Linked DNA regions of Homo sapiens: region 2 is linked to region 1. The links come from fine-mapping of genetic effects on plasma protein levels. Region 1 holds a variant in brackets. A gene starts in the other region. All regions are shown on their reverse strands. Region 1 overlaps NPHS1 (NPHS1 adhesion molecule, nephrin). Region 2 holds the start of WFIKKN2 (WAP, follistatin/kazal, immunoglobulin, kunitz and netrin domain containing 2).

The links. A credible set is the group of variants that fine-mapping cannot tell apart. PIP is the chance, under the fine-mapping model, that this variant and not a neighbour inherited with it causes the effect. Protein levels are from antibody-based Olink assays in UK Biobank. Linkage for the fine-mapping came from a reference panel and not from the study's own genotypes, which makes the PIPs less certain.
Region 2: WFIKKN2 starts here. The variant in region 1 is the best candidate, but not a certain one, in a credible set for the plasma level of the WFIKKN2 protein (UK Biobank, PIP 0.79).

Annotation. Positions count from the first base shown.
Region 1 is chr19:35,846,406-35,848,600 of GRCh38, reverse strand. NPHS1 (NPHS1 adhesion molecule, nephrin) reads left to right here. Exons shown (of 29, transcript NM_004646.4): 10 at 204-348; 11 at 436-560. Among named protein-coding and RNA genes, the nearest start is that of NPHS1, 5.0 kb to the left of the region's middle. RefSeq lists a silencer at 316-491. The variant G/A (reference allele first, on the strand shown) is at 256.
Region 2 is chr17:50,833,085-50,838,600 of GRCh38, reverse strand. WFIKKN2 (WAP, follistatin/kazal, immunoglobulin, kunitz and netrin domain containing 2) reads right to left here and starts at 3,015. Exons shown (of 2, transcript NM_175575.6): 1 at 2,454-3,015. The coding sequence starts at 2,663. RefSeq lists an enhancer at 5,303-5,516.

The DNA.
Region 1 (2,195 bases):
AGGGGGCTGAGGGCATGACTCGTGGATAGGGAAGGGGTGGGTCCAGCAGCCTGGGGGGCTTTCTCCTTGAGGACCATGGGTCCAACAGAGGGGGAGGTAGAGATGTCTCCTGTGTCCCTGCTGGGGACTGGGATGGACTCAGGCCTCTAGCACGATGGATAGGGGTGCTGCAGTCCCCACGTCTGAAGCTCACTCCCTGCCAGGGACTGCATGGCGGTCACATCTCCATGTCCAACCTGACATTCCTGGCGCGGC[G/A]GGAGGACAACGGTCTGACCCTCACATGTGAGGCCTTCAGTGAAGCCTTCACCAAGGAGACCTTCAAGAAGTCGCTCATCCTGAACGTAAAATGTGAGCCCCTGCCCTGGCCCAGCAATGCCCCCAAGCCTCAGGACCCAGCACAGAGAAAAAGTCATTCTTCCTTCCTCTCCCCGCCAGATCCCGCCCAGAAACTGTGGATTGAGGGTCCCCCAGAGGGCCAGAAGCTCCGGGCTGGGACCCGGGTGAGGCTGGTGTGTTTGGCTATCGGGGGCAACCCAGAGCCCTCCCTCATGTGGTACAAGGTTGGTGCCACGCCAGGGCTATGGGGGTGGCCAGGAATGTGGGGGAAGGACCAGGCCCCTTCTCTCCTTCAGAATCTTGGGCAATCTTGGAAAAAGATTAAATTTCTTGAAAAGTACTAAAGATTCTGAGGTTTGGCAGGGAATCAGGAAAGACACAAATGCTATGAGAATTAAATGGAATCCTAGGAAAATTCTGGGGAAACAGTGAGAATTTTAGGATAAAAATTGGAATTCTGAATCAAGATTAGGCATTCTAGAGAAAAGGTAATTTCATTAAAATTAAAGAAAATTCTAGTGAAAACCCTCAGAATTCAGGTGAAATGTCAGGAATTTTAGGGAAAGACTTGAATCCCAGAAAAAAAAAAAAAACAATGCTGTAAAATTTGGCTGGGCACAGTGGCTCACGCCTGTAATCCAAGCACTTTAGGAGGCCGAGGTAGACGGATCACCTGAAGTCGGGAGTTAGAGACCAGCCTGACCAACATGGAGAAACCCTGTCTCTACTAAAAATACAAAAAATTAGCTGGGCATGGTGGCGGGGGCCTGTAATCCCAGCTACTGGAGAGGCTGAGGCTGGAGAATTGCTTGAATCCGGGAGGCCCAGGTTGTGGTGAGCCGAGGTTGTGCCACTGCACTCCAGTCTGGGCAACGAGACCGAAACTCCGTCTCAAAAAAAAAAAAAAAAAAAAAAAAAAAGGCTGGGCACAGTGGCTCACGCCTGTAATCCCAGCACTTTGGGAGGCTGAGGCGGGCGGATCACGAGGTGAGGAGATCGAGACCATCCTGGCTAACACGGTGAAACTCCGTCTCTACTAAAAATACAAAAAATTAGCCAGGCGTGGTGGCAGGTGCCTGTAGTCCCAGCTACTCGGGAGGCTGAGGCAGGAGAATGGCGTGAACCCGGGAGGCGGAGCTTGCAGTGAGCCGAGATCGTGCCACTGCACTCCAGCCTGGGTGACAGAGGGAGACTCCGTCTCAAAAAAAAAGAAAAGAAAAGAAAAGAAAATTTGGAGAAAAGCTAGTAATTCCACAGACTATCGGAAATTCATTAGTATTAAACTGAACTCTTGGGATTTGGAGGCAAGAAAATGAAATTTCATTAAAATGAAAGAGAAGCCTAATAGAATTCTAGGAGAATCCTGGGAATTAGGGAGCTAGTTGAAAACTTTGGGGGGAAGACTAGAAATTATAGAAATGACAATGGAATTTTATTTTAATTGGATGGAATTCTGGGGAAGTGCTGAGAATCTGGGCAATACAAAGGAATCTGTTAAAAGACTGGGATCATAAGATATTATAATATCGGGAAAGATTCAGAAATCTATGGAAAGTTTAATTTGTGCAGCAGCAATAATAAAAAAAGGAAGTAATCTATGGAAAGACACTGGAATTAAGGAAAATTTCAAAGGAAATCTTTGGGGACAGCAGGAATTTTAAGAAAAGGAACTGAGGAACTCTGGGAAAGGCCTGGGAATTTCAAGGGAGTTTCCTGCAGGTGGTGTTGGGTAAACACAGCAGAAATAGATTTTGAGGAGTGCGCTGAGAGCCTGCAGGTGGCTGCAGAGGCAGAGCAGGAGTTGGGTGTGGGACAGAAGGCGGATTCAGATCCCCAAAACTGCCATGCACAGGGACTCG
Region 2 (5,516 bases), not on the chromosome of region 1:
TTCTGTGGAGCCACGTAAAGCATTAGTTTAATTCCTCGAAATTAGCAACATGCTCCTGGAGCTGACACAAACAAGGATTTCACGTGGTGTTTTCGACAATAACACATCGTACCCACTTGGCAGGCAGGCAACGCTCCTAATCCTCCACCAGGTAGTAACTCTGTGAATTACTCCCCACTAGGGCTGGCCTCTTGTCATTCCAACTTTTATTTCAGCCTCTTTGACATTCCACATCAGCTAAGAGGGGGAAAATATCCCCCCACCCTGGCTGCATGGAGCCTGCCTGCTTGACTTGTTTACTGTTCTACCCGTTTCGGCTCAGAATGGGGACTTTGTTTTGCAGCCCTTGTTTGGCATAGTCTTCTAGGCCACACCAGGGGAGGCTTTGGGACAGGGATGGGCAGCTCTCAGAGCTGGGTCTAAGGGAGAGAGACCCCGCAGGGAATGGAGAGCAGGAGAGGGAGTAGGAGCAGGAGAACCTTCTCCTTGGCCTGAGCCTCATCCCATTCCCTAAGACATTCAGGACCTGGAGGTCCATGAAAGCCTGGGTCCTTGGGCACCAGAGGGAAGGTACTTCTGGCCACAGGGAACCTACAGGGGGTCCTTAGAACACTTCTGTGTAAGGGGGCCAGAATGTCCCCAAGGGCTGTCTGGATACCCAGCCTTCCACAGGTGCCTTCTCTCCAAGACACACAAAATCCACCAGAGTCTCACCATCCCCAAGCCCTACCTGGTTAATCAGGCCAGCCTGTGCCTGCAAATGTAGCCAACTAATGGCATGACCTTGGCCAGATGGGAGCAGCCACCACTCCTCCTGACTTCTTATCTTCCTTTCACTTGGCACCACCATTGCCCAAGGGGAGCATCTGTCCTGGGAGGCCTAAGAATTGTCCCTGGGCACTGTGAGGTTGAGGCCACCCTCTCCAGGTCAGCCCTCTGCTCTCCTGTGGGTAACCAGGCATCTATGGGGGAACCAGTGTCTCTCGTGTTCCCTGGGGATGCCCCAGCCTGGATCTGGAGCCTTGGGAGACTCCGTGCTGCCCTCAGAGCTGGCCAGACTGGGCAGGAAATAGCTCTGCCTGGAGCAGGTGTAGGTCCCACAGCCTGTTGCCCCAGAGGGGGTGGGCAGGAATGGCCCTCGGGAATGACTCGGGAGCTAGAAGAGAACTGGCCCTGCCCTGCAGCAGTGCCCTCTGATACAGAGCAGAAGGCAGGACCAAGGACGCTGGGAGGCTGAAACGTGGTCTCCTTCCTCCCAGGGACACCAGAGATCCATTCAGAGCTGCTCCTGCTTGGCCTGCCGTCAGCCTGGTCTTCTCTCAGGCTCAGGGTCCAAACTCCTGAGGAGGTGGCCTGGAGTCCAATGCAATCAAAGCTTTCTTGTTAGACATGAGTTCCAAGCTCATCGTTCCCTCACTGGCCATGACAACTGTGCCCTCCGTGCCTGGCTCTGTGTCCACTCTCTCACCTGTGAATGGGCTGCTGATGCCCACCATGCTGACATGTCATGCCAACATACACGACGTGCCCGGCACGGTGCTGGCCACAGTAGCCCTCAGCACGCATGAAGGAGGAATCCTCGGGCTCCAGTCCCTGATGAACTGGGACATCGCTCCCACCTCTCCTTCCAGGCTTCGGTGTTAATAGACAGGATGGTGCCCTGTTTCTCTCCAGGTGAACGGGGCCTGTGTTCCTTCACCTTCCTAGGACCTGCAGGGCACTCCTGCATGGTCCCCACCCTGTGGCTCCCACCCCCATCACTCACAGGCTCATATGGTCCATCTCTGGCTTCTGGACCCCACTCACCTGGTCCGCCTCACACTCCAGCTTCTGGATCCCACTCACCTGGTCCATCTCACACTGTGGCTTCTGGACCCCACTCACCTGGTCCACCTCATACTCCCACTTCTAGATCCCACTCACCTGGTCCGCCTCACACTCCAGCTTCTGGATCCCACTCACCTGGTCCATCTCACACTGTGGCTTCTGGACCCCACTCACCTGGTCCACCTCATACTCCCACTTCTAGATCCCACTCACCTGGTCCGCCTCACACTCCAGCTTCTGGATCCCACTCACCTGGTCCATCTCACACTGTGGCTTCTGGACCCCACTCACCTGGTCCGCCTCACACACCGGCTTCTGGACCCCACTCACCTGGTCAACCTCACACTCCCACTTCTAGATACCACTCACCTGGTCCATCTCACATTGCGGCTTCTGGACCCCATTCACCTGGTCTGCCTCACACTGTGGCTTCTGGATCCCACTCACCTGGTCCATCTCACACTCCTGCTTCCGGACACCACTCACCTGGTCCGCCTCACACTGTGGCTTCTGGACCCCACTCACGTTGTCCTCCTCACACTCCCACACAGTCCCTCCCCGACGGCTCCCACCCCCGTCACTCACAGGCTCACGTGGTCCATCTCTGGTCTCTGGACCCCACTCACCTGGTCCGTCTCACACTCCCGCCTGCAGGTGCTCTGTGCGTCCACCCAGAGGTTGGGATTCATGTCGTTGGGGCAGATGCCGGCGTGGGAATAGCGGATGGGCGGCAGCGCCAGGCTTCGCGGGGGCACCCCGAGCAGTAGCAGCAGCAGCAGCAGCGCTGCCACCTGCTCCCAGCGAGACCAGAACCGGCGACACCTTGGGGCCCACATGGTGCAGGCTGGGGCGGCTAGAGACCTCCCCTGAAACGATGCCAGGGTCTGGGGCCCACCAGGGCCTTCTTCTCAGGGGCTGCAGACACCTGCCCTCCCCACCCCAGCAGGTTTCCTGCTCAGGCTGCTGCTCAGGCTGCTCTGCCGCTGCTGCCTCCACCAAGTCAGCACAGCCTGCCGGGCTGTGCGGCTTCAGATAAAAGAAAGGTCTTTAGAAGGAAGCTCCCTCTCCTGAGTGTGCAGGGAGAGGAGCCACAGCAGGGGCCCGCGCCCGGATTTATATCCTGGGCGCGCCACCCGAGTGGGAGCCAGCTAACCTGATGCCTGTCACAGGCAGGCTGCTGGCGCCTCTGTCCCGTGGCTGATCACAGACTTATTGCAGAAGGGGGGAAAAAAAAAAAAAGAAGCTGGAAGCAGTTTAGGCAGCGTATCTGGCACGGTGGGACACCTGCTTGTTTTTGACTCCAGGAGGCCTTTAACCCCTTCAAGGGCCAGAAATGGCATGTGCTTTGCGGGGAGCTGGCTCCAGGACACGCAAGCTCACTCTGAAGGAGGGCTTGTTTCCCTTTCCCCCACCTCCTTGGGGCCGGGCCCCCTCCTCCCCTTTGGCCACCTCTAAAGAACACACAATCGCTTGTTACGAGGAGGGACCTGCAGCCACCGGGTTAGCATCGCCCGGCTTGATAGTACATTTGAGAGCAAATGACGTGGAAAAACAACAAGTTCACGGCCATTCCAGGGCGGGCCTGCGCCGCGCTGTGCCCTGTAAGCCGACTCCCACCCCGGCCCCGGCCCTTTGTGGGGGGTGTGCGCACGGACAGCTCTGTATCTCTGTGTCCAGGGCAGTTTGCGTCTTAAGTTCCAACTTCAGTTAATTTTCCCCAAATCATTCCAGAGACACATACCAGATATGCTCTGGCCCCGCCGGCGGCTGGGACGGATCACATTCCTCCCTCTTCCATCGACACACCGAGAAAACCTCCGCGGTCACAGTGTCTCAGGATTGTGCCGGAGTCCAGCTGCCCTCGCTGACGACCACAGTGGCTGCTCTTCAGTGAGCTCCTTCTGACTGCCAGCCTTGTCTGGCCTCCCCCACTTCCCAAAGGAGAAGGTCTGTGGTCGAAGAGGGCGAGCGACTTGTCCAAGGTCGCACAGAGTGAGCAGTCCTGGTGGTACCAGCTGCCAGATGCACTGGGCTCTTCACACGTGTGGCTTCTCTGAACGCATCATCTCATTTAATCCTCACAACAAACTGCACCTCCATTTCAGATCGGAGGAAAGGACGCACAGAGAGGCTAAGCAACCTGCCCATGTCGCACAGCTACCCCACCACGGTACAGGAAACAGGGACACCAGCTTGCTGGGTGTGGGCAGGGGCCTTTTAAAATCACCCCTCCCCCATCCATCTGCCAGAACTGCTGTCAAGGCACAGCCCAAACTCTGGTTTTCACAGACTGGACAAGAAATTTTTGAAACATCAGGGGCTATATTTGTGGAGGGGCCGGGAAGAGAGCCAGAAGCTGCCAGGGGCTGGGGGCGATTCCTCCCCCATTTGGCAGCAAATGGCTTCTATCTAAAATGCCACAGAGCAGCCTGCAGTCTGAGTGTTTTCGAGTTGGTCACTCGATCCTGGGGGTAGGGGGCGGAGGCACATAGAGCCCCGAAAGAGAGGTACCTTTCCAAGGCCAAACCACAAGGGCCTTGAGGAGCTGCTGTGTCCCGGGGACAGTAGGTGGAGTGGCCCCCACACGCATCAGATACGGAAGGGATCCTGAAGGTAATCTCGCTTTACAGCTAAGGAAACTGAGGCCTGAGCCCAGGCCGCTCCTTCCCCACGTCCACTTTCCCCTTCAAGAACACAGCTCGCCATCTCACAGGACTGTAAAACGGCCACGGGACCCTCGCTTCCACACCCAGACCCTTCCCCTTCCCAGCCGGGCGGGTGCTGCCTTCTCCCCGCCTGAGCTGGTCCCTTCCCGTTGTGCGGCCATTCTGCAGGATCTGTCTTTTCTGCTTATGTCAAATCGCTAATGAAGGGTGTCAGATCCTAATCCTCTAAATTATTGGAATAAACTTCCCTTCGAGGCCAGTCCCCGTAATGAAGCCAGACAGCGGGCGACGCCGGCTGCTTTGAATTCCCCGTAATTTCATCAGCCCGTGTTCCAGCTGCTCCGCGCGGGGGCCTTCACACAGCCCTTGGACAAACGCGGTTTGCGCAGCCTCCTTTGATAGCACAAAGGGACATGGACAGTGACACATTTATAAGCAGGACTTAGAAAAACTGTCACAGCCCCATTAGGCCAGGACAAGTATCCAAGGAGAGGAGGCCGATTTCTGGGCAGTCCCAAGAGACCATTAGAGGGTGTGGGAGAGATGAGAGGGGGTCGGAGGAGGGGAGGCACCGAGCAGAGGTTGGGGGGTGCTGAGGAGGGCAGGAGAGGGGCACACGGCAGGGCAGGGGAAGCTTGGCCATCCTACCCCCACTCCTGGGGCTGATGGAGAAAGCCCCCACACCCAACCTGGTCCTGTCTCAAGCCACGGACTTCTCCTTCCCGGGCCCCATTCCTGGACGTTCTACTCTGAGAACTCTCAAAGCAGCATCGGGAAAGAGAGGAGCCCAAAGCACTCTGACTCTCCCTCCAGCCCTTCCAAGTCTCCCACCAAAACACAGCTCAGAATAATAAATAACATCTGATCGGCCTGGAGCCCACACAGTGTTTTCACCTGCACGTTGCTGCTGACCCCACGGCAGCCCCAGGAGGGAGCTCCCTAGCGCGGGAGAGGAAACCGAGTCACAGAGAGGTTAGGCTGGGCCCTCCTCCTGCCCACCCCGGGCCTATGGCCTCCACACAC